Regions from separate parts of the Homo sapiens genome. Here regions 1 and 3 are each linked to region 2. Evidence: fine-mapped QTL for protein levels in blood plasma. Region 2 holds a variant in brackets. A gene starts in each other region. All regions are shown on their reverse strands.

Region 1 (8,184 bases), not on the chromosome of region 2:
ATTATTCTTAGGTTTAGTCATTTAACATAATCCCAAACTTCTTGGAGGCTTTATTCACTTAAATTTTTTTCTTTGTCTTTTTTGGATTGGATTACTTCGAAAACCTTGTCTTCAAGCTCTGAAGTTCTTTCTTCTGCTTGTTTTATTATATTGCTGAGACTTTCCAGTACATTTTGCTTTTCTCTAAGTGTGTTCTTTATTTCTTGAAGTTGTGACTGTTTTTTATTTATGCTATCTATTTCACTGAAGATTTCTCCGCTCATATCTTGTGTCATTTTTTTGATATCCTTAAGTTGGATTTCACCTCTCTCTGGTGCCTCCTTGATTAGCTTAATAATCAAACTTCTGAATTCTTTTTCTGGCAGTTCAGGAATTTCTTCTTGGTTTGGATCCATTGCTGATGAGCTAGTGTGATTTTTGGGTGGTGTTAAAGAACCTTGTTTTGTCATAATACCAAAATTGTTTTTCTAGTTCCTTCTCTTTTGGGTAGGCTATGTCAGAGGGGAGATCTGGGGCTCAAGGCTGCTGTTCAGATTCTTTTGTCCCACGGGGTGCTCCCTTGATGTAGTATTCTCCCCCTTTTCCTAGGGATGTGACTTCCTGAGAGCCAAACTGTAGTGATTATTATTACTTTTCTGGATCTAGCCACCAGAAGGGCTACCAGGCTCTGGGCTGGTACTGGGGGTTGTCTGCATAGAGTCCTGTGATGTAAACTGTCTTCAGTTCTCTCAGTCATGGATACCAGCACCTGTTCCAGTAGAGGTGGCAGGGGAGTGAAAGGAACTCTGTGAGGGTCCTTAGTTGTAGTTGTTTGATGCACTAGTTTGGTGCTGGTTGGCCTCCTGCTGAGAGGTGAAGCCAGCTGGACTTCCTGGGTCGAATGGGGACTTGGAGAACTTTTCTGTCTAGCTAAAGGATTGTAAACACACCAATCAGCGCTCTGTGTCTAGCTAAAGGTTTGTAAATGCACCAATCAGCACTTTGTAAAAACAGACCAACCAGCACTCTGTAAAATGTGCCAATCAGCGGGATGTGGGCGGAGCCAAATAAGGGAATAAAAGCTGGCCACCCGAGCCAGCCGCAGCAACCTGGTCTGGTCCCCTTCCAGGCTGTGGAAACTTTGTTCTTTCGCTCTTTGCAATAAATCTTGCTGCTGCTCTCTTTTTGGGTCTGCACTACCTTTATGAGCTGTAACACTCACCGCGAAGGTCTGTGGCTTCACTCCTGAAGTCAGCAAGACCTCGAACCCACCAGGAGGAAGAAACAACTCCGGACGCACCATCTTTTAGAGCTGTAACACTCACTGTGAAGGTCTGCGGCTTCACTCCTGAAGTCAGCAAGACCAGGAACCCACCAGAAGGAAGAAACTCTGGACACATCTGAACATCAGAGGAACAAACTCCGGACACACCATCTTTAAAAACTGTAATGCTCACCGCAAGCGTCCGCAGCTTCATTCTTGAAGTCAGCAAGACCAAGAACCCATTGGAAGGAACCAATTCCAGACACACTGCCATGAGGTAGTGCTTTCATGAGAGCATCAGCTGTGGTATATAGGGGAGGATCAGGTGGTGGGTGGGACACTAGAACTTCCAAGAGAATATGACCTTTGTCTTCAGCTACCAGGGTGGGTAGGGAAGGACCATCAGGTGGGGGCAGGGTTAGGCATGTCTGAGCTCAGAGTCTTCTTGGGTGGGGCTTGTTGTGGCTCTGTGGGGAATGGGGGTGTGATTCCCAGGTTAATGGAGTTACCTTCCCAGGAGGATTATGGCTGCCTCTTCTGTGTCATGCAGGTTGTCAGGGAAGTGGGGGAAAGCTGGCAGTTACAGACCTCACCCAGCTCTCACACAACCCAACAAGCAAATCTCACTTCTACTGTGTTCCCCCAAAAAGCACCGAATTTGTTTCCAGGCAGTAGGGGAGCAGGATTGAGAACTTGCCCCAGGCTACTAGCCTCCCAGCTGAGAATGCAAGCCAGACTTTTGTGCCTCCCTACCTGTTAAGTCTGCACACCAGATTCACGCCCTTTCCTGAGTTCTGGACAGGAAAGTTTGTGTTCGGTTGGAATTGTTACTAAGTTCAGCTGGAGGTTTCCTTCTCCCTGTGGTCTTTTCCCAGTTCCTCCGGCAGCCCCTGTGAGACAAGTCAGAAATGGCTTCTCTGGGGACCCACAGAGACGATGGGGCTTTACCCTTTGCTTCCTCTACCCCTGTATTTCGCTCAGCTCTCTAAATTGTCTGAGCTCCAGGTAAGGTCAAATCCTTCTCCTGTGATCTAGACCTTCAGGTTCCCCAAGGGTGTGTGTTCAGGGGTGGACAATACCCCTTTCACACTTTTCACAGTTTGGGCATTCACAGTATGTGGGCTATTTTCTGGGTCATGCAGGAGCAATATACTTTCTTCAGAGGGTCTGTGGATTATCTTGGCTTTCCTGTTATATCCTTGCAGCAGTTCTTGGAGCAAAAGTTCACAATGCGAGTCTCCACATCCTGCTCTGTCCATCCAAGTGGGAGCTGCAAGTTAGTCCTGCCTCCTATCCACCATTTTTTCCTATTTTGTATTTTAAATTAAAACTCATTAGAATGTAAACTCCATGAGGGCAATAATTTTAATCCAGTTTTTTCACTGCTAAATACCTCAAAACTGTTACATGTGCTGCCATTATCATGGACGTTCTAAACATTTCTCATGAATGAATGTTGATATAGCACAGTGCTGATCTCACCACCTGCCACAAAGTAAAAACTCTCTAAATGTCAAACACTACTATTATAAGTAATACTATTCTATCATTGAGACAACTATGGTTCTGTATCTCTTTAAGGAGTGCAGTCTAGGCAACAACATATTTCAACATCAGGTATCTGTTATCTCATGTTCCTAAGTTCATCTTTTTACCTGATCAATATTAGTAAAGATCTATGGCCTCAAGTGAACTTTACTCTATGAATTTACAATTGGGAACTTAGGTTGAAAATTTACCTAGTATTATTTATTCTGCTGCTATAATTTATTATTTATTCTGCTGCTATTGTTGCCCTAATCAGTTATCATGCTCTTACTGGACTCTGACATGGTAAGTAATGTCAATTAATATAGTTGTGTTATTTTAACATTATTTCAAAATATTTTAAGTGAAATATAAGACTCGTTACAAAAGGACTTAGACAGAGGTTATAAATTATTAACTTTTTCCTCAAGAGAAGTATTGTGTACTTAATGACAAGTTCCTAGTGCTTAGAATTGTTAAAATCTTTGTGAAGCACACCACTGAAGATGAGGTTGAAAAACCTGACTTTTATCATCATATTGATAATCTCAGGAGAACTCTATGCAGAAGGTAAAATTAATTCTTAATATTCTTTATTCTCTAAAACATACAAATGGAGATTCTAATATTTATACAACTCAAGTTTTAATATACTCTTCTATTTTCATTATCAATTTTATAACATATTTTATAAATATAACTTTTTATAATATTTAGACCTTTTCCTTTGAGCAAAATTAGTAAAGTGTTCTTACAGTAGCATAAGTCAGAAAAGCAAAACAAAACAAAAACCCTTGTATCTCTAGGGGGCATAGGAGACCAGGATCTAAATACTTCGAAAAGGTTTTCAGGTTAACAATATGTCCATTTCGAAGTCACATGTTAACTTTAATTCTAAATTTATGCTAGAATCCATTCCTAATACTGACAAAACTTGTACAATTTTAATTCTGTTCATAAGGTGAGAGTTTAATGTGGGAAATTTGAAAAGGAAATAGCCATAAATATTTTTTACTTTTGAGACTTTGATTTTTATCACAATGAATTATTCATTTGTTGGAGACATTAAGTAGTGATTAGTAGGTGAACCATATAATTGCTTGTACAAACAGGGACACTTAGAGAGTAAAAGAGGGGCTCTATTAATAACTGTTTGGACAACACATGTAAATCAGGACTTTCCAAACAAACCAATACCTATGGACTCCCTATTAGAAAGCTTTATAGTCAGATTGCCCAATGTGTAAGATTAGTGTGCGAGTGGAAGCTAGGCAGTGTACATGGGTATGTTGTTCAGGAACATTATCAATATTATCAGGCCATAGGATGAAGAATCCAGGGAGGACACTTAGCATTAGCAAGAGTGAACATACAAAGAAGGAAGCTACAGCAATACAGCTTTTCTAAAATAAACATTTTTGGGAATTTGTTGAAATTAAATACATAAGTTTTAACTGTGTTTTAGTTGAATAGTTAACTATAAATTTTCTACCAAAACATCTATAATTAAAATTATAAAAGTGAAAGACACAGAATTAATCTTATTTTATACTTTTAATTCTATAATAGGATGATTTTTGCATGAATTTCTTTTGATTTTATTTTTCTGTCTAAATAGGGAAATACCAGCAGATATAATTGTCTGTTATCTATACCATAAAGACATTGCAATATTCTAGTTAATTTTCTAATTATTATAAGGTTATAATGCTATTTTACACAACAAAAAAAAAAGTAAGCTGCTTGAAGACCAAGACAATGATTTTATTTTTGCATGCTTCTCTCAACTCCCATTGTGCACTTCAGGGACAAGAATTGAATTAATTGTGTTTCTCATTTCATGGTATGCAAGTATTATTGGCCTATGAAAGGTCTCACTCTTGCTTTACTTACACATTTTATCCCCTTATTCCTAATCTTGAAGTCCATTTCCCCTGGGACCTACTACAATGTTTTAACATGTTACTCTAGCTCTCTCAACCACAAATAGCTCTGGAATGAATATTGTAATATAACCAACTTATCTTTCTGTAAGAATGTCATCAGTCTGTATTCACTCACAGATAGCATTATTGAGTCTATTCTTGTACTTGATTTCTGTAATGAGAGATTACTTTTGCAGAATGGCAGTTTTGAAGTATATCATCTCTGAGAGAGGATGTAAATTGTTGCTCCTCATCATTCTCACCAACACCTCATATTGTCCATTTTTGTACTGGTTGCTATATGGTTATTCATAAAGTGATATCCCATTTTTATTTATTTACCATTCTCTGATCAGTAGTAAGTGTGTCCATCGCTTCATGTACTTTTTTTAATATGTTCAGACATCTGTGATTTCCTGGTTTATATGTGATTAGTATATTCCTCACATTTCTCATTAATTTTTTGTCAGGAATTCATATTCTCCAAGGCATTCCAGCTACCTTAACAAATAATGTGCCTATCCTGGTGGTGGAGGGAGATGTCCCAGGACAGAGAGTCTTTAAAGCCACAACCTAGGATTGTTGTGCAGAGAATACTTTGCTGCCCCTCCCTGACAAGCAACTGTGCCCCTCAGGGAAATTTCTTGTGTATTCACCATTGCACTGCTATTTTGGAAGACTCTTTTTATTGTAAATTCCTTTGGTGCTTGGGTGTGAAAAAATGGTGAGAATAATTCTCAAGGAATGGGGACTATCCAGCCCATGTTTTTCTGTCTGCTCCATCAGATAGTGGAAGTTTTGTTGCTCATCATTCCACATCCATTTCCTTCAAACCTAGGCTAGCACTACTAGTATTTTATGTCTCATAGTAGCATTAAGGTATACAGTGATCAACCAAGGCATTGAAGCCGTAGTAATCACACTGGATCTAGGCCTTCTTCCATCCATGACTGCCCATGTTTCTTCCCACCACAGCTCCTAGGATTGTTCGAGCATTTCTTTCTTTTAAGTGTTTTTATGACTTTAAGATCTTCAACATAAAGATATATTTTTAAAATATATGTTTTATTTGGAGTATAACATATCCAGAAAAATGCAAAAATCACAGGATACACTTATATAGTTTTTACAAAATTTTACACCATCCAGATCAAGATATAGAACAGTGATAGTACCCCAGAAATATGATCCTTCTAAGGCACTAAACCCCAAAGGTAACCATTCTGACTTCTATTATCATGGATTAGTTTGTTTTCTTTTAAAAAGTTATGCAAATGTATACATTAATTCATATGTGATTGGCTTCTTTCACTCAATATTATGTTTATGAGATTCACCATTTGTTCATTTCTGTTGTTGGATAATATTCCATTGTATGCATAGTCTAAAATGTGTTTATCTTTTCTATTATTTATGGGCATTTAGATTGTTCCCAGTTTGGGACTATATGAATACTGCCACTATAAGCATTTTTTTCCATGTCTTTTGGTATACAAATATGTGCTTTTTTTATTGGGTAATATGGTTTGTACATGTTTTACCCCAATATATATTGCAAAGGTGTTCTCTCATAGAGTTTGGACTGATTTATACTTTCAGTTGTAGAAATATGCGAGTTCCAGTTTCTTCACTTCTTCACAATCATTGAGATAGCTTGTCTTTTTCATTTCAGCAGTTCTATTGGATATGCAGTAGTATCTCATGGTGGTTTAAATTTTCATTTCCCTGATGACTAGTAATGCTAAGTACCAGGTCTCTAACCATTTAAATATCCTATTTTGCCAAGTTCTTGCCAAGTATTGCTTTGTTTTACTTGGTTGTCTGTTTTTTCTTTTAATGCTATTTATTTCAAAATTTTTTATGAGTTAGCATATGTTAAGGAGAAACTTTACCTATTCCTGAACTGTACTGTCCAATACAGTGGCCATCAGCCACATATAGCTATTGGAGACAGTACTTAAAATGTCACTAGTTCAAGATCAGATATTCTGTAAGTATAAATATGTAGTGGATTTTAAAGAGTTAGAAAAAAAAAGAATGTAAAATATTTTCAATATATTGGGTTAAATAAAAACCTATTATTAAAACTAACTTCAATTGTTCCTTAGTATTTTTATGAATGTGACTATTAGAAATTTTTAAATTACATAAGTGACTTACAATACATATCTATTAGGAAGTGCAGGCAGGGTGGAGTGGTTCAAGTCTTGTAATCCTAGTGCTTTGGGAGGCCAAAGCAGAAGGATCCTTTGAGTCCAGGAGTTTGAGACCAGCGTGAGCAACAGAGTGAGACCCCTCATCTCTACAAAAAATAAAACAAAAATTAGCCAGATGTGGTGGCATGTGCCTGCAGTCCTAGCTACAGGAGAGGAGGCTTGCTTAAGCCCAGGAGCTCCTGGTGGCAGTGAGCTATATTTCAGCACTGCACTGAAGCTTGGATAACTGAGGAAGACTCTGTGTCTAGGAAGAAAAAAAAAAGTACTGTTCTACGAAGTTATGCAAAGCTTCCCTGAAAAAGTGGTCTGCTAAATTTTATCATGACTGTTGGATGTTTAAAGTCATTTGCAGATCAATTATGATAAAAGGACTGCTTGAGTTGTCACAAAAGTACCTTAAAAATTTAAGTAAGAAAAATAAGTACTAGTTGAAGTGTCTCTAAAAACTTTTAGTTTGTATTGTCACCTGATTACAAATTTATGTTTTTAGATTTGTTTTTCCATTTTCAGCTTGACATTTACTCATTTCAGAGAAACCCTGTGGTTTTCCTCATGTGGAAAATGGAAGAATTGCCCAATATTACTATACTTTTAAAAGCTTTTACTTTCCAATGAGCATAGACAAAAAATTGTCATTTTTCTGCTTGGCTGGTTATACCACTGAAAGTGGAAGACAAGAAGAGCAAACCACGTGTACAACAGAAGGCTGGTCTCCAGAGCCAAGGTGCTTCAGTAAGTCAGCTGGATATGTCACTCAATGTTTCAATACTCAAAGAAATTTGTATATAAAAATAGGGGTCCAATAAAAATGGAAAGCGGTTAAACCTTTTAGTAGATAAGAACAAAATCACTAGCAATCTGTCTTTCTACAAAATGAAGGCATAATTTGAAATCCAGTAAATAATGCTTTTACATTAAAATGTTATTTTCTGTATCTGTTTTTAATAATACTCTGTTGAAGGGAATAGGGTAATAACTGAAATTATCATATTGCAAGGCAAAGAGAGGTAATTTACTTTAAGTAACAAGAAACTTATTTTGATAATTAAGCATAAGATGCCAGAAAAATGCTTGAAACTCTGGCCTCTGGAAGGGCAAGATTGCTACTCTAATGCTTTATCATTTGTAAGACTCATCTCTCTTCATGTGCCAACTTCTCTCATGATACCCATTGAAAAATGTGTTTTTCAATTTTGAATTGAAAGTTTGAGTTCAAAGTTGTGAGAAGGTAATCTAATTGACTCATTTCATTATTTTATATCAGGCTACACTA
Region 2 (8,148 bases):
AAGCCAAATGGCAGAAGCTTAGTGATGAAGAGGAGGAGAGGAGAAACAACAGTGGAAGGCAGGGAGGGTAGATTGGTGTTGGGGGAAGGTTTTTTAAAAATACTGGAGACCTCAAATTGTATGGATGCTGAGGGAAAGAGCAGTGCTAGAGGCAGGGTCCAGCTTGTATAGGCCTTGTCAGTTTCAGCTTGCAATTTATCCAAAAAGCAAAGAGAAGTAGCCATATAAGGGCTTTGTGCAAATAATTTGATTTCGGATTTTAGCCCTGAAATGCTCATTCTGACTGCACTGTAGAGAATGGACTGGAAAGGGGTACATACACGGGTAGATTCAAGGGCTGTTTAAGAGGTAGGATAGAAAATATTTGCTCAAGGATCGGATTTGATGATTGAGGGAGAGAAACAAGGAAGCCTCAAGAATGATGCCCATGTGTCTGGTGTACCACCTGCGTGCAAAGTGATGGTATTCATTGAGGTAGGGAACTCCTGAGATGCACCAGGTTTTCCAGGAAAGTGATACATCTCATGTTAGACATGATGAGCGTGTGTTGTCACTGGGATGTGACAAATGAGGATAGCCAGTAGGCACTTAGATACGGGAATCTGCAATTCTGGAAAAGATCTTGGCTAAAGACCCAGATTTGGGAGGTGTCAGGATATAGATGGAATTTGAAAACTATGGGAGTTCCTCAGACAATCAAGGAATATTGCGCTGCACTGGAGGAAACCACAGAGTGTTCAATGTCAAGGAGGCCTAGGAAAAATACCTTCAAAGACAGAGTTCAATGCTTCCAAAAGGTCAGGTAAATAAGAACTGAATCCTGTCTTTTGGCCTGAGCACAGGCCTTGGAGACCGTGACCTCCACTTTCAGTAGAATGATGAGGCGGAAGCCAGATGGCAGATACTTAGTGATGAAGGGGAGGAGAGGAGGAGTAACAGCAGGAGTGGGGACATAGGTTGGGGGAGGTTTTTAAAAAAATACTGAAGAGACCTGAAATTGCATGAATGCTGAGAAGACCCACTATTAGCAAGCAGGAGCTTGAAGCTGCAAGAGGAAGAGTACGTAAGAGTCACAGCAAAGCCCCGGAGAACAAGGCAACGCAGAAGCCTGGTTTGGAGATGCAGAGGGAGGAGGGACCTTTCCAACTTCAGTAACAAGAAGAAAGAGGAAAAGATAGATAAGGTTGCAGGCAGGTTCATAGATTGGTAGCAGAAAATTGAGAGAATTTCTAACCAATGGCATCTTTTTTTTTCTTCTTTATAACATTGGGAGATTGAGTGGCAGGGTCAGAAATTTGAAGACAGTAAAGAAGGTTAGAAATAGCCATGTTTGACTGGGTGCGGTGGCTCACGCCTGTAATCCCAACACTTTGGGAAGCCAAGGAGGGTGGATCACCTGAGGTCAGAAGTTCGAGACCAGCCTGGCCAACATGGTAAAGCCCCATCTCTACTAAAAATACAAAAATTAGGCGGGCATGGTGGCATGCACCTGTAGTTCCAGCTACTTGGGAGGCTGAGGCAGAAGAATCACTTGAACCCGGGAGGTGGAGGTTGCACTCCAGCCTTTGCAACAGAGCAAGACTTCATCTGAAAGATAGAAAGATGAAAGAAAGAAAGAAAGAAAGAGTAAAAGAAAAAAATTAAAATTTTAGGGGGAAAATTTTCTAATTTTTGAACATGCACTAAAATGATTTTCAGAGAAAACCAAGTGTTATTTTCTAATCTGCATGGCATTATTAAAGATGTTTACTCATCTTCCTTGGGGCTAGGCATCCCATTCCTGCAGGAAGTCTTGTGGTTAGGCGGTGGCTGTGGCTCTGGGATGATTCAGGAATGCAGACCATGCCTTATTTGCACAGGAGGGACACGTTGCTCTCACTGCATGCATGGTCACAACTGTCTGTGTGACCTGTCTGTGGGAGGGCAGACCCCCCTCCTGCCAAGCCACAGTAGCAGCTGACCTGCCAGGCAAAAGCATTCCTTTGTAAAGGAAACCCTCCCAGACCCTCTGACCAAAGGGGACGGGTGGGGACTTCCTGGCACTGCAGGGCCCCTTGCCTGGTACTCCCAGCAACTGGTTGCGGTGGGGAGGGCAGATCTAGGGATGGGGATGGGGAGGAGAAGTGGGAATGGGAAATTGGGAGTCAGAGGGGCAAGTGGGAGAGAAGGGCGCACCTGCCGGGATAACAGGCCAGATGAAGTAAATAGAAAATCCTCTGAGCTCCCCTACTGGCTCCAGCTGTGGAGAAGGGGGAGGAGAAAACCCTGTGGGACAGGGGAGGAGGGTGAGGGCTCCTCTTAGGAAGTTATTTAAGAGCCAACTGTCTTGTCTTTCCCGAGTCCGTTTGAGGAAGTCCCCGAGGCGCACAGAGCAAGCCCACGCGAGGGCACCTCTGGAGGGGAGCGCCTGCAGGTAAGCCACCGACCCTGCACCCTATGAGCCAGGGCCCGCTGCGTCCACCTTCTGCACCTCGGTTTCCTGGTTGAACCAGCAAGCGGCTTGCTCTGGGCCCTGTGGCGCCGGTCACAGGCAGCTCCACTTGCCCAATCCTGGCTTCCCGCCCCCAACTCCGCACCTGCCCAGCCCAGCTTCTAAGCGGGACTTCTCTCAGGCTCTCGAGGCAGCTCTCCCGAAGCCGTTGCTTGCTTAGAATGCCACCAAATGGGGATGGGGGAGTTGGAGGTGCTTCCCCAAGGGACGAGCCCCCTTTCCTCAGGGAGCAGATTATGGAGCTGGAACACAAAAGGTGGAGGGAGTGGGGCCAAGTGAGAACAGCCTGCTAGACTGGAACCCCGCCGGCTTGGCTCCCCACTCCTGCGCGCCTCCCCACTCCTGCGCATCGCCTGCCTCCGTCCCAATTTGGAGCTGAACTCGAGCCACTTCTCCTCCTTAGACCCGCCCAGAAGCGAGGGCTCCTGCCCGCCGCACTCACCCAGCCAGGCGTGCACCTGGGGCTCCCCCCTTCTCCCCCTTAGCACTGTGTCTCCCGACAGCGCGCCACACTGTTCTGCACCCCTGGCAATGCCGCAGCCTACCTTCGGTATTTCTCACTAGAGGATGGCTCTCGCAGCCTTCTCCCTATCATTAACCCTTTTTCGCTCTTCTCCCTCCCTTCCCCCGTCAGCTCACCAATGACTGTAAATATATTTATCTATACTTATGGATACCCATTCACACCTTATGCATCCAAACACTCCTGTCTCCTTCTCAGACCAGACACCTTAGGCGTGGTTGTCTTTTCTCCAGCATGTTGTTAGTGCTCCACATGTCTCTGGAACCATCTCTCTACTCTGGTGGCCTCTATAATGGGGACTCTTCACCTCTTGGGGGTGTGCCTGGTTTTTGAAAATAGCCAAGTCTCCAGGAGTCATGACTGGGTAATCCAGGGGATCAAGGGGGAACCTTCACTGGGCCCAGAAACAAAGTCCCCCTTCATTTGGTCATTTGGTCAACAAGTACTTACTGGGCACTGACCGTCAGGTGTGTGTTGTTTAAACTGGCTCAGTGCCTGCACAAGCTCCAAGGGAAGGGGAAGCAGGCTTGGGGAATGGGAAATGTTGGCAACCCTGACTTCTTAAGCCTATTGATAGCCCTATTGAAAATTGCATGCCCAACCTCTCCACCTCCTTATCCTCCTCCATGTGGCTCAATTTCCAAAGCAGTTCCTACCTCCTCACCCCTAAGTGGATTTACTTATGGCTCTTCTTGGGCTCCACCCTAACCCTATCAGACTATAATCTATCAGAGCAAACATTCTGTTTTGTTCTCTGATGTATCCCATGTACCTAGATCACAGCCTGGCATGTCATAGGCCCTCAATAAATATTGGTTGAATTAAATTGCAAATGTAAACGCTTTAGAAGACAACATTTGTCTGGACATGGTTGTGTGCGTTTATTCTTAAAAGTGACTTATAATCTCATAAATCTGTATGAAATGAACATAGATACAGCACATGCATATAACAGGAAACATTTCTTGCGAAGATGCTGCTGTAGGATTATGGAGGGTGGGGGAATCTGGGTCTCCAAAAATCTTTTAATTTTTAAATTTCTTTGAATAAGCCCCTTTTCTTCTGCTTTCCATATGTTTTGACACATACAAAAATCTCCCCAAGATCCTTGGGGAACTGTATTCCATCATTAGACTAATCCTTGCTGCCACTTCTCAGTTTTTATTTATGCAAACGGCAAAATGTGTTGCTCAAGTGCTATCACACACAGATATATCTGTTTCTCTATTTTGGAATCCTTGTCTCAAATGTTACTCACTTTACATGCCTTTTCTGTTGTCTTCTTTTTTTTTTTTTTCTGAAGGACCTTGTAAAGTCAAAAATGTCAGAAACTTCCAGGACCGCCTTTGGAGGCAGAAGAGCAGTTCCACCCAATAACTCTAATGCAGCGGAAGATGACCTGCCCACAGTGGAGCTTCAGGGC[G/T]TGGTGCCCCGGGGCGTCAACCTGCAAGGTATGAGCATACCCCCCTTCCCCACCACTCTGGGTCCAGGCACAGCCGGGCCCTGGCCCCTCTTCCCTGCAGGTAAACATCCTCTGTCTCCACTGGGGTTCCCACAAAAGGAAGCCCCCTGCCAATCTCTGGTTTTATAAAGGAAGAAAGCAAAAGCTTTCTTTTAAGTGGTGAAAGCACCGAAGACCCAGAGCCTTGTCCCAGTTCTGCCCCTTACTGACCTTGTAACCTCAGAGAAGTTGCTTTGTCTTTCTGCCTCTCAACTATTTCCTCTACAAAACCAGAGTGCTGGATTAGCTAGGGCCTCTTCCAGCCCTACTGCTCAATGCTTTAGAGAATTTTCTCTAGCTGGAATATTCCACTTCCAAAATATTGTGGCTGTTTTGATTGTCTGGCTTGCACCTCCTTCCTTCTCCCTCCTCCCTCCTCCATCCATTGCTGTGAATTTCAGAGCCGGGGAGAAGTGCCAGACTCTGACAGTAATAGAGATAGAAGCCCTCTATTTCTCTCCAGAGCAGCCTGGTGAGCTGGCAAGGCAAGCTGCTTCCCCAGCCTCTTGCCTCTGCCTGATCCCTAGAAACCTGTTCCGGGTACAGCAGCCGGCAGCTGACCTCCTCTCAGCCCTGTCAGTGGTGACAAGGTCCAGGTGCCAGCACTGGTTTGGTGATACAGACATCATTCCCCTGGGCCATGGCAGGGACATTCAGACTCATGTCCCCGAGTGGCATTGAGCAGGGAGTCTTTTTTGTCAATAACATTCATGCACCAAAATCTAATTTTACTCCTAAGGGTGTTCTGTGCTGGGTTTCACTGGGGATAAACACCTATTTGCTGGGATAGGTGAGCATGGTCATGCTGGAGCTGTGTGGTCGATTCCCCTCATTAGAAGGAGACCAATGCCTGAAAGCCCAGATTGATGCAGCTCTCCATATAGCAAAGGGAAAGGGGAAGTGCAGTTTATCCAGCAAGCCAGACACTTGCCCAGGTGTTGTGGACTGGTGTCATTGTGTTACTGTCACACTAGATGATTTGATATCAAATAGTGAAATCAGGGAGGTATCCAGTACCATCCAAGTTTGGGAAAAGAAGTTCACAGAACAGAAGGGCATCTTCAGTCAGGTGGTAGAGTTTGAGGGGCTAAGACGAACTTGTAGTTCTGAAATCTGTCTCCCAGCTGGATGCCACTCTCTAAAACCCCACCTTGACAGCCACAGAACTGAGTTTAAGAGGACTTGCTAATCAATGAATCCTCATCCCCATGTTATATGTTAGGAAATAGAGGCTGAAGGTAAGCAGTTGATATTCACTGCTTACCCAGTCTACGAGTCTTTTTCTTTAAGAATGCAAATAAAATGCAAAAGCCTACAGATATCAAATTATTAAGCAGGTTGCCTTTGTGTATTCCATCTTCTAGCAAAATTCCCCTGTGGCCCAAAAGACTCTGGGCCCCCGGAAAGGGGGTGTAGGCACTGGAAGAAGTGGGCAGTAAGAACAGGAGGAGTAATGACACAACCGTCCTTGCCACGAGGAGTCAGGACACAGCCACCCTTGCCAGGATTGGGAAAAACGGGAACCTCTACAAAGGCAGTGCAGGGAAGCAGGGAAGCAGAGAGCAGAGGCAGAAGACCTGGCTTCCTGTTCCACATCTGCCACTTCTTGCTCACTCTGGGAAAGTCATATTGGTGCCCAAGCCTCAGTTTCTCCATCAGCAAAATGGAAGCAATGCCTACTTCACAGATTGTCGTGAGCATCTAGTGAGCAGTGTCTGTGATCAAGTCTGACCCACAGCACGTGACCAATAAGTGTTCATTGACTGGGAATGTGCAACTTATCATATCCCAGCAAGGTCAGGAAAGCACTCCAGGGAATACTTGTTCCTATGAGGAATATGTACGACCTGTAGCCCCCATAAATCTGACATCTGAACAAAATGCTGCTAGTAAGACATTAAAACTGTCAGAGAACATGTGCAGGTAGGCCAATTAAGAAAAATAAAATCTGGGATTACTGCTTTTGTTGATTTCTGGAGGCACAGGTGGGGAGCAGCATAACTGAATTACTCTGAAAAAATCAGTCATTATTTACTTGGCAGACATATGTGTCCACAACCCAAGTGACATTCTGGGATATCCATTAGAGGCACTGGCATAGGAATATGAATGTCCAGTGACTGTAGAATGAATGAACGAACAGTCAATCACTTGTGAATTGAATGACTCATAGCTCTAGTGGCATTATAATTTATTATTAATAACAAGCTACAGATTTCATACATATGCATTCATTTAATATTTTTCACAGACAAGATAAGTGTTACATGCTCTGGGGATACGGTTTCTGAAGCCCAGAATCATGACAGCAAGTCCCAGATGAGAAGGACAGGAAAAAAACTATATATATATATATATATATATATATATATATATATATATATATATATATATATATATATATATGCACACACACATAGCAGCACACAAACCATCTGAACAAGGAGGTCTATCTCCTGGTTACCTTTTGCATTTCAGATTTATATTTAATTGTTCTAAAAGCAGGTTTTCTGGCACTATATATCAAGTTTTCTCCAAGTCACTAAGGGACGAAATTTGCTAAGCGACTAAACCTTGGAAAGAACACTCATTTTTAAAATGCCATCTTCATGCAGTTCACCCAGTGGCCACTAGTGGCCTCTAAGAGGCCTTGTATCCGCGGTTACCAATCTGCGGATGATGACTTTGGCTCCAGGAACACCAGCCCCAAGTTAAACTCTTGTCTCCATTTTTTTCAGTGGCCACTCTTCCAGTTAGCAAGCTGCTCTTGTAATACTGACTGAGAAATGCAGAGAGGCAAGAAGAGGAAAAGGGGGGAAATGGCGGCTTTTTCATTTCTAATAGTTCTGTAGCAGTGAGTCCTGCCCATCACTGTGTGTGATATATACAGTGTTCTAAGGTATACTGAGTGTATATAACGCCCTTAAGTCATGGCTTTGGTAACATTTGGTTAAGAATTATTTTGGTAAAATCTGTATTTTAAAATGTATAAACTCATGTAAGTTTCCTCTCATACACACCATGATATTCAAGAAAAAAAAAATGAAATATTTGAGGTAGGCACGGAAATCCCAGAGGTGGGACCAGCCATTCAGTGGTAGCGTTTGACATCTTTGCATGATTTTAGGCATCTTTAATGTCACCCTTTGAATTCAGTTGTAGCCAGGAAAGGTACTGAGACGATCTCCTCAGATTTGGATTTGTATCAATTTCTAATAGACTGTTCTGCAGGCTTAGTTGGTGTTTCTGAAAAATCTCTCCACTGCCTTCCTGGTCTGAAAGGTTATGTGTAGCTGGAAATGTAATATTCCAGAAGAAACCTTATGTTGTTGGTCTGCTTTGGCTCTATATTGTTAACAATAGGCGACCATTTGTAGCAGTAATTGGAATCATTTAACAGTTCTATTGTATTGAATTAAAACTGGAAAGCAAGCCTGGCCCTATTTAAAAACTGGGTTCTAGTAGTTTTTCAGGCTAATGGGGTCTTATACCTTTCTAAGAATCTCCTCCATCCCACCACTCCTTGTCAGAATTAAATCAACCAATTAATGATAAACCTCCTCTTTGTGCAGAGTAAACCTCTCTGGATTGAAGGTTACTGAGAGACTAAGAGGCATTCAGTGTATGACTGAG
Region 3 (8,163 bases), not on the chromosome of region 2:
AAAAAAAAAAAAAAGTATCACTATAAAGAGCATGCAACAGTAAGTTTTTAACAATTACTACCGTCACTAAAGCCAATTTGGAACAGAGACCTAGGCCTTAAGTAGCTGTAAAAGTGTCAAGACTTTCAAATATAAAGAAGCATATTCAAACACACTTCTTTTACTAAAAATAAACTTCGAAATTTATTTTAAAACCCACTTACAGGATGAGATTGACAACGTATCTCAGGCTGAAGAGGGAGGCAGGTGGAAGAGTGGTTCTTTACAAGAGAAGGGATGTGCAAGTACTCTTTGAAATAACAACCTTAGAAGGAGAAAGATAATTGCAAGGATCCAAAGGAAGTGCACACAGGGCAAAAGGAACATACAGAGATCCTTAACGAGACCTTCTTTCCAATGTCAAAGAACACAAGGCAGCGAGGGGCACTGGGAACAAAAGGGAAAAAACTGTGTGAGATGCAATTACCAAGGGAGGCAGGCACCCGACCCCGCAGAGCAGCAAATGGAAGTGACTCAGGAGGGGAATAAGCCAAATTCATGTTATTGAAAAGCTCATTCTAGCTGCCAGATGGAAACTGACTGTGGACGGAAGGAGCAAGAGTTAGGAGGCCTCTTGCAAATACGCACTTTATGAAGCTTTACGAAGTGTTCAACATGTTTATTATTAGGAAAAGATCAATTTTAGTATTCAATCACTTACAATCCGCAGCGCTAGTCAACAATTAACATTCGTTAAATAAGTTTTAAGACTGTTCTACAACTTTGCCACTGTAACTAAGTTCAACCGATGAGATGTCAAAATGATTCATTCAATCTTATACTATGGTTATATGAGACACCAGTTAATGAGCAAAAGCAGCTAAGACGAAGCTCCACTTAACAGGTACAGAGACAGGGATGCTGGTGAGTGCTTTTTAAATTTTTTCTTTTTTTAAAAACAGGCATGAAGTGACATACCTAGCGTATATGGTGAGATTTTAAAAACATAAAGCCTTGCAAACTACCCATAACGGCTACATGGAGTGACAACAGCAACCGTGAACACAGAATTAAGTTTAAAGCAAAACTCCCTCTTAGAACCTGTTAACCCACTGTAGACAGAACTGGTCTTGACGATTTCCTCCCTCCCAGAGAGTGATTCGGCCCTGAGGGGGCTCCAAGACACCCACCCGAGGATAAAGCCAGGGAGCTGGGCACCGAGGAAGAGGCTGGGGTCCAAGGGCGCACAGCTGCACCTTCTGCGGGACACCTGAGAAGAAAGGGGTGCCGAGGGCGCTTTGGGGACGGGGCAGCTGGCGCCAACAGCCAGGCGCGGGTCGACTCCTCACCTCGGGACTGGGACGCGGCGGCTCCTCCCCGCCCTCCGGCCGCGGCGACTCCAGCAGCGCGAGAGCCACGGCCTCGCCGGCAGGCTCTTTACTCTGTGGATCCTCCATGCCGGCTGTCACGCCAGAGGAGAGTTGCTGGAGCCGGACACTTGCTAACTCTCACTCTGCAGAGCCCGAAAGCCTCGCCTTTCTCCGTTGAAAAATTACCGGGCTCGCGTTCCCGCGGCGGCGGCCACACAAACTCCAGCGGCCACCTCCCACTTCCGGGAGCGTGTGGCGTCCACACGCCGGGCAGGCGCAGTGAGCCGGCGTGCGCGGAACGCCAGCGCCGCAGTCCACAGGGGGAGGGAGGACGAACAAGAGGGAGGCGCGCCGGTGAGAAGACGGGGCGTGGCCGGCCGTAGGCGGAGCTAGCGCGGGTTGAAGTTGCGCAAGGATCTAGTCCAGTCACTGGAGGGTAGCACCGGCACGTGTGTTCCCGTCAGTGTTTCCTGAGAAGGAAAAAAGTAGGGTGAGTGGGAAGATATCATAGAGAAAGATGTTTTCGACCATAAAAAATAATAAAACAATTCACATTTTCCATAAGGAGTTTCCTAAAACTTCCACTCTGGGCAAGAAAAGAAAATGGGTCGGGACTTAGTGTCCCACTATAAACAATTAGAAAACGGAACAAAATATAGGAGACACCTATTCAGACATTGGACAACGGACAGCTGTGGACTGTTTTACCTGAGAGAAAAGAAATAAAAGGAGCCGTATATCATCCTGCCCTTTTGCCCAGAGGCGATTTCCAGTCTGTGGTGCGATGAAAGGAAATCATATGGAAACCTAGGATCTCCTGGGTTGAAAAGACAGAGATTGGAGTTGACGAAATTGGGGTAGGCCAAGTCGGTTGGAATTTGTAGGGCAGAATTCTGGAGAGGAGGGAATTACATGGAAAAAGAGCTTCAGAAATCTGCTTAGGAGTACCTTGAATCTTTAACTGAATAAAAAACGTGAAACTCCACAAGGCCAGGAAAGAACAATTACTGGGGAGCAGTACACCAAACAATGGTGAGAGGTCACACAGAACTGGGAATCATTTGAGCTCCCAGCAACCAGAGTGAAGAGATTATTGAATACCATGGAACACGCAATAGAAACCTCAGATGTGAAACTGCCATTGCAAAATTATCATTGAGACAGTGAAAGAGATCAGACCTAACCAACTCCATCTTGCTTTTAACCTCCAGGCTATCCTTATTCATTCCTAGGCGTAGGCCAAACTAACACTGGGAGGAACTTAGTGTATAGCTTATAGTTTAAAACAAAGGTGATAGCCCTTTCTCAAAATAAACCCTCTTCTTGAGACTAGACTGCTTTTGTAGGACTAGTAAATTAGCCGAAAGATTAGAAATTATGATTTAGGACTCATGCAGCTGAAGGCTACAAGATTCTAACCCTCTCCAAATTGCTCCTGGGGATAATATCACTATTGTAAAATCTAAGATCAGTGCTTGAGATATTTTGCAGGCCCTGCACTTGATGGATCAGCTGGCACCTCCCAGATTGATAAACTGACTCACCTGATCTTGGATAAACTAGCTCATCTGATTTTGTGTCCCCCACGGGAGGAACTGACTCAGTGCAAGAGGACAGCATCGACTCCCTATGATTTCATCTCCTACCCAACCAGTCACCACTCCCATCTCACTGGCTTCTCACCCACCCAATTATCCTTAAAAACTCTGATCCCCAAATGCTCAGGGAGACTGATTTGATTAATAAAACTCAGGTCTCCTGCACTGCCAGCTCTGCATGAATTGCTCTTTATTGCAATTCCCCTGTCTTGATAAATCGACTCTGTCTAGGCAGTAGGCAAGATGAACCTTTTGGGTGGTTACGAAAGTGTCATGCCTTAGTGAGATATAATAACCGTAGACTGCAGGACCCAGAACATAAACTACTGTAGATTCTTCAAAAGCCTTAAAACAAGCCCTGAAAGGATCAAACTGCTCTGTAAGTAACCTAATTACCTGTAAGAACAAATTCTAAAACTCTCTGAAAGACTACAGTAAAATCCAGGATTCAACAACATTAAATTCAAAATGTGAGACATCCAGTCAAAAATTGAAAGACACGCAGCACTTGGGGATGCTGAGGCGGGAGGATTGCTTGAGCCCAGGAGTTTGAGGCTGCAGTGACCTATGATTGCACCACCACAACCCAGCCTGGGTGACAGGGTAAGACTCTGTCTCAAAAGAGAGAGAGAGAGACCAAGTGGTAAGAAAATATCTCACGAAGTTCATAGAAACAAACCCCAAAATGATAAAAATGATGGAATTAACAGACAAGGATTTTAAACACCTGTTATGAATATGCTCAAAGATTTAAAGGAAGACATGATAGGAGAGAAACTGGAAAGATTTTTGAAAAATCAAATTTCTGGATGGAGGTGAAAAATATTTGAAATAAAAATTTCTTTGGATGGGATTGCTAGCGCATTAAGCAATGCAGAGAAAAAGGTAAATAAATTCAAAGATATAGCAACAGAAACAATACAAAATGACACACACACACACAGAAAAAAGATGAATACAGCTTCAGTAACCACTTAAAGAGGCTTAATACTTCAGGACCACTTGAAGAGGCTTAATACTATTGACCTAAAAGGTAGAAGCTGAGGCAAAATTAATATAACTAGAGAGTTTATTTGGTCCAAGTTTGAGGATTGCAACCCAGGAGCATAGAATTGAAGTTGTGCTGAATCCATCTACTCAGAAGATATGCCAGTTTGGAAGTTAAGTGAACACTTAGTAACCAATCATAATTGTCTTAAGTCTTGCCCATTCTAGATTATTTGCTTTGTTAAATAGGCAATTGAGATAGGGCATAATTCCAATAACAATAATCTTTGATGGGGTTAAGTAGCCCTTTCTAACCATACATACCTCCATCTCAGCTTCTATCTCAAGAAACAACTCTTTTGACTTTGTTTCTTTGACTTCTAGAACTAGTGCAGCAGCATCAAGAAATTAGACCTGCCATAAATAAAAAGACCCAGAAGAAGATACTCTAATAAGTAGTGAGGCTTTTGTCCATGAAGCCTATGATGAGCAGCTGTGCTGGGGAAACTCCAAGAAGTTTCTCTGAGGAAATTGGATTGTGAGACACAGTTAAAGAATGTCCCTTCTGAAAAATCCTAGCTAGGTGAAAATAGTCGAAGTCAGTCAAAAAATAGTAAAAAAAAAAAAAAAAAAAAAATACAAGCTAGATGAAAATAGCTACATGAAAATTACTATCGTGCAGTAACTTTTTTTGTCTTTAGACTCTGGTTTGAGCTATTAAAGGTTGAACAAAGTGAAACATGCATGAAATAACCGAAAAGGAAGATGAGGCAAAATTAATATAAGTAGAGTTTATCTGGGCCAAGTTTGAGGATTGCAATTGTAGATTCAAGTTGCCCTGGGTATACTCAGATCAGTAGAAGCTACAAGTGAATTTTTAAAGGAAAGAGGCAGTTGCTGGGTTGTTTATCAAGAATTTACTGTAAGGCCAGGCGTGATGGCCCACACCTGTAATCCCAGCAGTTTGCCAGGCTGAGGTGCGAGGACCACTTAAGCTCAGGACCAACCTGGCCACATGGTGAAACCTCATCTCTACAGAAGGAAGGAAGGAAGGGAAGGAGGGAGGGAGGGAAGGAAAGAAAAAGAAAGACAGGCAATCAACAAAAGAAATAAGTAAAATGCTTATAGTATGGAGAAAAGTAAAACAGGAAAAGGGAATGGGAGGGTGCCCAGGTATGGAGGGGGTTACAATTTTAAATAGAATCGTTAGGGAAGACCTCTCTAATGATGTGCCATTTGTGTAAAGACTTGAAGAGGCAAGGGAGTAAACTGAGTATATATGGGAGAAGAGAAGTTTAGGCAGAGTAAACAAGTGAAAAGATCCTGAGCTGGGAGTGTACCCAAAATGTTTAAGAAATATCACTGTGTTCAGTACTTTCTTATGACTGTGTGACATCAGTATGCAGGAGACCTAAATGTTTTTATTTATTTATTTATTTATTTATTTTTTGAGACAGAGTCTCGCTCTGTAGCCCAGGCTGGAGTGCAATGGCGCTATCTTGGCTCACTGCAACCTCAGCCTCCTGGGTTCAAGAGATTCTCATGCCTCAGCCTCCCAAGTAGCTGGGATTACAGGCGCCTGCCACCACACCTGGGTAATTTTTGTATTTTTAGTAGAGGTGGGATTTCACCATGTTGGCCAAGCGAAACTCTCAAACTCCTGATCTCAGGTGACCTACCCGCCTTGGCCTCCCAAAGTGCTGGGATTACAGGCATGAGCCACCTTGCCTGGCCGATGTTTTTAAATGTTGACTCTGCTGTAACTTGCCACATAACACCAAAGGGGAAATCCCAATGACTTTAGCACCTCCTGTTTAAAATAAAATGTGTGCCATAGTTGAACAGTTAAAGAGAAAGCTTCCCTGAGTATTTCAGCTATGCAACAGTCTAAAAGAGAAGTTCGAGAATTGGTTATTCTCTATTCACCCCAGTGGAAAAATGTACCTACCCTTCCTCTAGCTTCAGTGTCCTGGGATTAGTCAGCTGTCAGTGAAGATCAATGTATTGTTAGACAGCAGGGTTAGTAAATTACTCTAGGCTGCACTAAATATGTGACTTTCACATAGCAAAATGCCTTTTGTTTCTAAGCCGTCTCCCATTGCTGCCTGATGCCACGTGTTAGATAATTCCATATGTTTAGGTCTGTATTTGAGCAACCTGCTCTGTTCTCTTGGTCTCTGGTATCTGTTCTTATACCCTTCCCACACTGCTTTCTATTACTCAGCTCTGCAATATGTCTTCATATCTTATAAAACAAGTTCCTCCTCTTTACTCTTCTTTTTCAATACTGACTTAGCTATTTGTGGATATTTAATCTTTCATGTATACTTTAGGACAAATTTTTTGCTCTTCAAAAAATCCAATCCAATCCAATCCAAAAAATTCATTAAGATTGAATTCACTCGATTGATTTGAGGAGAAATGACATATTAATTTATCCTCTTGTAATATAGAACTGCTAATTCAGATTGTCTTTTATGATGATCTTTAACATTTCACAATTTTCTCCATAGATATCTTGTACATTCGTAACCAAGAAATCCTAGATACATTATGAGTTTTTTCCCATTATGAATGGTAAATTATTTTATACCATTACATAAAATATTATTGATTTTTAAGTTAAATAAACAAAAGCAAAGAAATAAAAGACAACCAGATTAGAAACAAAGAGCCAGGCGCAGTGGCTCACACCTGTAATCCCAGTGCTTTGGGAGGCTGAGGAGGGTGGATCACCTGAGGTTAGGAGTTCGAGACCAGCCTGGCCAACATGGTGAAACCCTGTCTCTACTAAAAATACAAAAATTAGCCAGGCTTGGTGGTGCACACCTGGAGTCCAAGCTACTCGGGAGGCTAAGGCAGGAGAATCGCTTGAACCTGGGAGGCGGTGGTTGCAGTGATGCTAGATAGTGCCAGTGCACTCCAGCCTGGGTGACAGAGAGACACTCCATCTCAAAAATGAATAAATAAATGAATTAATTAAATAAACATAATACATTGGCCCTATCACCCAGCAATTCCAGTCCTAGGTATTCACTCAGGAGGAGTGAAAGTGAATGTCCAGGTGGTGGCTTGGACGTGGATATTTCCAGCAGCATTTTTCAAAATAACTGATAAATGAAATTAACTCAAATCTCCATCAACAAGTGAATGGATAACCAGAATGTGATGTATCCCTGTAATGGCATAATACTCCTCATATAATAATAAGCCTTTTTTTTTTTTTTTTTTTTTCAGAAACAAAACCTCATTCTGTCACACAGGCTGGAATGCAATGGCAGGATGGTGGCTGCCTTGACCTCTGGGACTCAGGTGATCCTCCCACCTCAGCCACTCAAGTAGCTGGGACTACAGGTACATGCCACCATGTCCAGCTAATTTTTGTATTTTTTGTAGAGACAGGGTTTCACCATGTTGCCCAGGGTGGTCTTGCACTCCTGAGCTCAAATGATCCACCTGGCCCAGCCTCCCAAAGTGCTAGGATTACAGGTGTGAGCTACCGTGCCCAGTCAATAATAAACTATTGATACATGCAATAGTATGGATGAATTTGGAAAAATCTTGAGTGAAAGAAGCCAGATGCAAAAGAAGACATACTCTAATTCCACTTATATGAAGTTCAAGAATAGGCCAAACTAATCTATGATAATAGAAATTCACAATAGTGACTGCTTCAGCTTGGGATTAGGGGTTGAGGATTAACTTGAATGGTACACAAGGGAAGTTTCCAGGTCCTGGAAATATTCTATGTGTTAATTGGGATAGTGATTATGTGATGTATATATTTATCAAAACACATTGAATTATGCATGTAAGATCTACGCATTTCACTCTATGTAACCTTGCTTTTGATGAAAAAGAAATTAAAATTTTGAAGACAAAAAATTGGTTTTTAATTTCTTTCTTTTTCTTTTTCTTCTTCTTCTTTTTTTTTTTTTTTTTTTTTGAGATGGAGTCTTGCTCTGTTGCCCAGGCTGGAGTGCAGTGGCACAATCTCGGCTCACTGCAACCTCCTCCTCCCAGGTTCAAGCTATTCTCCCACCTCAGCCTCCCAAGTAACTGGGATTACAGGTGTGCACCACCATGCCCAGCTAATTTTTGTATTTTTAGTAGATACAGGGTTTCACCATGTTGGCCAGGCTGGTCTCAAACTCCTGATGGTTTTTAATTTCTAAACATTCTTTTTTTATTAATCCCCAGAACATTCTGGATAATTTCTAAACTTTCTT

Alleles and levels. Alleles are on the strand shown, and positions count from the first base shown. The strength of an association depends on the size of the effect and on how common the allele is.
With allele T in place of G in region 2, the plasma level of the protein whose gene starts at base 3,240 in region 1 is lower (moderate association).
For the plasma level of the protein whose gene starts at base 1,603 in region 3, G is the high allele of the variant in region 2 and T is the other (weak association).

Evidence for each region. PIP is the chance, under the fine-mapping model, that this variant and not a neighbour inherited with it causes the effect. Protein levels are from antibody-based Olink assays in UK Biobank. Linkage for the fine-mapping came from a reference panel and not from the study's own genotypes, which makes the PIPs less certain.
Region 1: F13B starts here. The variant in region 2 is fine-mapped to the plasma level of the F13B protein (UK Biobank, PIP above 0.99).
Region 3: ERI1 starts here. The variant in region 2 is fine-mapped to the plasma level of the ERI1 protein (UK Biobank, PIP above 0.99).

Annotation. Positions count from the first base shown.
Region 1 is chr1:197,062,316-197,070,499 of GRCh38, reverse strand. F13B (coagulation factor XIII B chain) reads left to right here and starts at 3,240. Exons shown (of 12, transcript NM_001994.3): 1 at 3,240-3,340; 2 at 7,443-7,643. The coding sequence starts at 3,277. RefSeq lists an enhancer at 933-2,132.
Region 2 is chr6:6,314,852-6,322,999 of GRCh38, reverse strand. It overlaps F13A1 (coagulation factor XIII A chain), which reads left to right and starts at 2,338. Exons shown (of 15, transcript NM_000129.4): 1 at 2,338-2,413; 2 at 4,318-4,465. The coding sequence starts at 4,336. The region is part of intron 1 of LOC124901253 (a long non-coding RNA gene); the gene reads right to left. The variant G/T (reference allele first, on the strand shown) is at 4,438.
Region 3 is chr8:8,996,337-9,004,499 of GRCh38, reverse strand. ERI1 (exoribonuclease 1) reads right to left here and starts at 1,603. Exons shown (of 7, transcript NM_153332.4): 1 at 1,329-1,603. The coding sequence starts at 1,436. It overlaps LOC105379227 (a long non-coding RNA gene), which reads left to right and starts at 1,758. Exons shown (of 3, transcript XR_002956680.2): 1 at 1,758-1,839; 2 at 7,172-7,288. RefSeq lists an enhancer at 5,731-5,790.